2 separate regions of the Homo sapiens genome follow, and region 1 is linked to region 2. Evidence: fine-mapped expression QTL. A gene starts in region 2. The other region holds a variant in brackets. All regions are shown on one strand. Distances are from middle to middle.

What was found.
Region 1: its variant is fine-mapped to the expression of GLIPR2 in whole blood (TOPMed, PIP above 0.99).

What each region holds. Positions count from the first base shown.
Region 1 is chr9:36,162,498-36,165,397 of GRCh38, reverse strand. GLIPR2 (GLI pathogenesis related 2) reads right to left here. Exons shown (of 5, transcript NM_022343.4): 5 at 1,492-2,900. The coding sequence ends at 2,876. Among named protein-coding and RNA genes, the nearest start is that of CCIN, 5.4 kb to the left of the region's middle. RefSeq lists an enhancer at 2,486-2,900. The variant G/A (reference allele first, on the strand shown) is at 1,464.
Region 2 is chr9:36,135,400-36,138,299 of GRCh38, reverse strand. It overlaps GLIPR2 (GLI pathogenesis related 2), which reads right to left and starts at 1,567. Exons shown (of 5, transcript NM_022343.4): 1 at 1,509-1,567. The coding sequence starts at 1,521. RefSeq lists silencers at 1,266-1,315, 1,346-1,915.

The sequences.
Region 1 (2,900 bases), 27 kb before region 2:
CTCCTCCTCCGGAGACCAGTCTCCCTGGGAGAATAATTAAGCCCTTAATGCCTCTTCAGCCCTTACCTTCTGCAAAGCAGCAGCAGCAACTTGGGTGAATGATGAGGCCTCTTGGTGCTGATGCCAGACACCTTCTGGCTCCCATGGACATGCAGGCTGGCAGATCTCGCCTCCTGGGACATCTTCACCCGGGAGCAGGGGGTGGGTGGGTCAGGCCCTGCTGCTTCACACCTCCTTTGTCCTCTCCCCTGCCCTCCCACCTGCAAGCTTCAGCCTTGGGAGCATTTCAGTGGAGGAGGTGGCCATGCCTGTTTGTTTTTGTTTCAGCTCCCAGAGCACCAAGGCAGGAATGAGCTCTCTCATCAGACACTTCCAGCATTAAGTTGGGTCTGGAGGTGTCATGGGGACCTGAGAGAACTGATAGACCTAACTCCATGTGACAGACCTCGTACAGGTGGATAAATTGAAGCCCAGGGAGAGGAAGAGGCTTGCACCAGAGAGCTGTCTTCTTCCTCTGCCCTCTGGCTACAAAGGAGAGCCGCGGTTTGGTTTGTCCTTGTTCTTTTTGGATTGTGAGGCTTGCCATCTTCAAGAAATCCTTAAAAGTGAGATTAGTGCCCACCTGCTCAGCCAGCTTTGCTGTCTGGCATTTCTTTAGCCCAGGAAAGCTCCCCGGTCCAGCTTTTTCCTCAATCCAGCCAACTGTGGAAACAAACTCCAGCCCATAGAGGCTGGCTGCATGCTGGCTTCCACCACCTGGTTGTGTGTGTGTGTGTGTGTGTGTGTATGGGGGTGGGGGGGGTGACCCGAGGAGCCACCAAGAAGTTCATTGGCTGGCAGCTTGCCAGGTGGGGCCAGAAAAGGATCTCAGCAGGGTCTTTTCACCCACCGTCAGCTTCCTACCAGGCGCCACATTTTCTGTTCATGGTGTCTCCCGTTAGGAAGAGATGGTATGATTCTAATCTTTGGGGACTATCGGCTGGTATATCAGTTTGTTTGGAAGCCCTGAGGAAAATGAGGGGCATATTTTAAAGATATACAGATTTGGGCTGGAGCTAGAAAACTCAGGAACATTCAAGAATATTCTCAGCATCTCCTCCTCTTTTGTACCTCCAATAACTGGCTTCTTCGCTTCTGTGTATTTCCTATTCATAACTTGGCTTGCAAGTAGCTTTGGTTTGCCATGGCCCTAATTCCAATTTATGGCATCCTTATTTTTTTCAGTTCCACTGGTAAATTCTCTCCATAATTCTTAGCTGAAATTCCCAGTCCATGGCCAGCCTGGTGATTGGCTGCCGTTGGATCCAGTGTCCACTCTAGTCCAATCAGCTCTGTGCTGGTGGGTCAGATGGCTTAAAACTTGGCCACTTAAGCAACACAGTCCACGGGGAATGGGTTGCAGGTATTCTGGGGTTAATCGAGAGAGGGATTCAGAGTCACGGATTGTCTCAGCCATGGAGAAT[G/A]AAGTATGAATCACATTGGAGGAGGTTATTACACAAAGAAAAAGATTTTATTGTCTTCTTAGTCAATATCCCTGGTGAAATTAGAGGCATAGCTTGAGACTGGTGACAGTGCAACACAGACCTTCAGGAGCTGCTTTGAGGACTGGCCTGCCCAGATGCCTGCTGTTAAGCCAGCAGCCCCCTCACTCCGGCCCCTGCCATCTTGACAGATGGAGCTGCCATGGTTTCAGGGACACTCAGCAGGGCATCTGGGTTGGTCCCTCCCACATGGACCTTGTAAAGTTGCTATTCAGGGGAACCTGGTATCGTTTCAGGCAAAACACAGAACCATATTAGCACTTCTAAGCCCCCTGCCCCGGCCGCCTCCCCGGAACATTTGGGCTTGTCGCACATTCCAGGAGGGAGCAGGAGCACAGCTGCAGCCACAGCTGCCAGGAACAGGCCTGGGCTCCCGCCCTGTGTGGGGGGAGGGCAGAGGCTGAGGGCTTCCTCTGGGGGCCCTGAGTAAGCTCACCCTCACCCCACCTCTCTGACTTCATCCATCCAAGGCCGCTTGGCCAAGAGCCCAGGCAGGGTGAGGGGCTGTCTCCCAGACCAGGCCTGGGCTGCCTAGCAGAGGTGGGGGAGGGGGAGCTTCAGGCCTAGCCCAACTCTCCAGAAACCAGGGGTAGCCTGCTGAGCTCTGAAATGCCAGAAGTTTAAGAAAAGAGGGAAGGGGGCAAGAGGTGGTGGTGGTAGTGGTACTTTGCTATTTAAAGGTAGAAGAATGCAAGGAAGTAAAACTTTTTTTCTCCATTTGTTGTTTGGCGACCCCATTGGAGAATTCCAGGAGGCATGCAGGATGACATCATGTTTTACAACTGAGAAATCTCAGTAATTCTGTAAAATGGAGTCCCTGCCTGCTCCATGTTCCTGATGGAAGCTGCTTTGTATTTATGTGCTTAAAGCTGTATTTTATGTCACATTTAAATGAGGGTTTAATAATCTTAATTATCTACCAAAAGTAGATTACGACGCATGAAGATCACATAAAATGAACTTCACTTCTCAGCATCACAAACATTTGGAATACAAAAAGTCCAGGGATGGATATTAGAAGTAAGAAAAGTACAAAAGAGGTTTGCTTAGAAATAACAAAAAATTAAAAAAAAAAAACGGATCCCCCCTCCCCCCAATCCAAATAATCGTGGTCTAGGTAACCATCGGGGTAAATGCTTCCTTTGCTCACTCCTGTAATAAGAATGAGCGCACACAGAACTGTATGTCCAAGTGTGTGTGCCAGAGACGCTCACATGCATCACACACACAAGCACATACACCCACAGGGACAGACGCACAGCCAGGTTGTGGTGGTTCTAGGCACTTCATATCCACGTTCTTAAGTCTGCCACCTTCCCATTACATTTAACAAGTTACTTCTTCGGCGGCAGGACGTTT
Region 2 (2,900 bases):
TGAGCCGAGATCGCACCACTGCACTCCAGCCTGGGCAACAGAAGGAGACCACGTCTCAGAAAGAAAGAAAAAAAAAAAGTAGCCTAAGGGAATTTGTGGATTTTCTCCACAAATTTCTACAGAGAAAGGAGTTGATTTCCCAAGCAGATATCTCGAAAGACTCGCTCTCATCTGCCATACTTTTGCTCCATCACCATCTGTCATCCTGTTAACTAAATGGCAACCCATTATATCACCTTTCCATACTGTGAAGAACCCCAGGGCTCATACGGCCACCCTCATTGTACAGACAGGGAGGAACAGAGGGAAGGAGGCTTGCTCAGTATCACACAGCCAGTGATTGGCTGGGCCAGGGCTGAAAGCCAGACCTGCCTCTACAGCCTAGGAAGGCTGGTTAGGACCAAGGCCAGGGAAAGCCACTTGCGCCCAGCGCTGGCATCTCCTGAGTCCAGATCTTGGAGGACAGATCCTAGAAGGGACCTAGCCTTACTCATCTGAAGTGGACAATCCGGATGAAGCAGGACTTCTGAATCCTGTTCAACAGCTGTTCTCTAAGAGCCTCCTGTGAGGCAGAAGCAATGCTGAGATAAACACGGCCCCTGGCAGCCAGGGGTGAGGACCCGGTGGGAAACAGGTCTATGGCTGAACTCTTGTCCCCGGCCCACTACAGGAAGGGCTGCAGCGAGGAAAACACCAGGTTGGGCGCTCCCTCCCGGGGGGAATCACAGATGGGCTCCAGCCCAGGAGCTGAGCCTAGAGGGATGGGATTTTCAGGCTGAGAGTTGGGGTGGTGAAGGCCCGGCAAGGAAACCTAGGGGAAGGGACCTGTGCACCAGCTTCTGGACAGCTCTAGTGTAGGGCGGAGGTAAGGGCTAGGGACCCACTCCCAGGGGCCCGAAGGCAGGACTGGAGTGTGTCCTTTCACTCTGAGGACAATGGTGAGGAAGGTGTTAGGGAGCGACAGGAGGAGAGCTGCGCTGCAGAAAGTTCATCCCGACAGCCACAGTAGAGAGGATGGGGTGCCCCAGGAGAAAGGGAGCCAGACCGAGCCTAGCACAGGGGGAGCCCGGCACGGCGCGGGCGCTCAGGAGAGAAGGAACAACAAATGGATGAGGGGGATGCTCAGGGCTGTCCTCGGGACAGCCGAGCGGGGCAAACTGCTTCGCAGCGAGAGCTGTTGTCACACTTTGGTGACTTTTCCAACTCTAAGTCTGGCCTCCTGAAACAAAGCAGAAGCCACGCCTTGGCGGGCCGCGGCGCGCAGCCCCTCAGGGTCGGGAAGCCCAACTTGGCGCGATCCCCGGCTCTCCGGCGGGGGCCTCCCTCGGGCTCGCCTTCCCCCCGGGTTCCCCGGAAACCGCGCCGGGGCGCTCCGCCCGCGCGCCCTCCACCCGCACCCCGGGCTCCCGCACTCCCCAGGACCTGGCTTGCGGCGGACGAGGGAGACGGCGAGGTCCGGGAGCGCGGGGTTCCGAACCATTCCGCAGCGGGCGAGCCCGCGGGCTCACCTGACTTGCCCATGGCCGGCTCCGCGCGCTCCTCGCTCCCCGCGGCTGCGCTGCACTGCGCTCGCCCGGCCCAGCGCCGCCCCAGAGCCCAGGACCGGGCTGATGCCGCGGCCCCTCCTCCGGCGCCGCCCGGCCCCCGCCTTATAAGGAGCGACAGCTGAGGGCGGAGGCGCCCGGGGCCACCCCGTGGGCCTCCCGGAGAGCTCACCCCTGGGAAGCAGCTCCGCGACTGCCGAGGGCTCCCCGGATGCGGCCGCGGGGCTCAAGCCTCCCGGACCCCACACCGAGCTGTCCCTTCCCGGGGCGCGTGGGGAAGCCCGCGCCTGCTGGGCCCCGGGTGGCTGCTCTGCGCCGACGCGCGGCGAGGACAGAGGGGCGCGCGGTCGCGGCACGAGGGGCGTTCCGGCCGGCGCCACCAGGGGACGGCCTCTCCCTGCCGCGGCCTGACACGACACACGCAGCCCCGGGGTGTGCCCCCATCTCCGGTGACTCTGGGCTCCGGAGGGCGGCTGGTCCGGGGAGGGGGATGCTCCTCTCCTAGGACACGCCCTCTAATGCCAGTCGGGGTGGAAGCGCCGCCGCCTCTGACCCGTCCACTCGCCCCTCATTGCCTCCCAGACCAAGCCAATTCCCACCCCTGCAGTCTGGCCCCAGACCTGTCTCCCCAACGCCCCACCTTTTCCCCATACTCCAGTCAAACTAGATGTCTTGTCATTCCCCAAACATGTTCTGGGATTTCCCACCTCCCTGCCTTTCCTCAGGCGGTCCCTCCTCCGGGAGTGCTGGCCCTGGAGCCACCATTCCAGTGCTGCCCATCCCTCGGGGTCGGCCGGTCTTTCCAACTGCCAGGTGCCCTGACCCTGGGAGCAGCACACACCAGGTACTGGGGAGATGTGGTCCCACCCATGGCCCCTGCCCCGTGGGAGAAGTGCACTTACTTGACCGCACAGCCCTAGTCACCTGTGCCAGACTTCCCGCAAGCGCTCCTTTCTGGGGAAGGGGCTCAGTACACCCCAAATGAAGGAAGCGAATTTTAAGGCTTTTCAATGAATGGGCACTGAAGTGAGCTGACCCACTGATGATAAGGCTAGAATTTGTAATACCAACGGCTTACGAATGTCCCGCAGGGCGATGGCTGGGCACTGTGCTCTCTATTCCTTTCCCCATGTCAGGCAAATACACCTACTGTATTTTAGTACCGTCATGAGTAATGACATTTCAGTCAATGCCAGACCACATATACTGTGGTAGTCCCAAGAGATTATGATACCATATTTTTACTATGTTTCTATGTTTACATCTGTTTATATATGCAAATTTTTACCATTGTGTTACAGTCACCTAAAGTATTCAGTATGGGTCAAATTGGTGCCCAACCCTGATTCAAAAGGG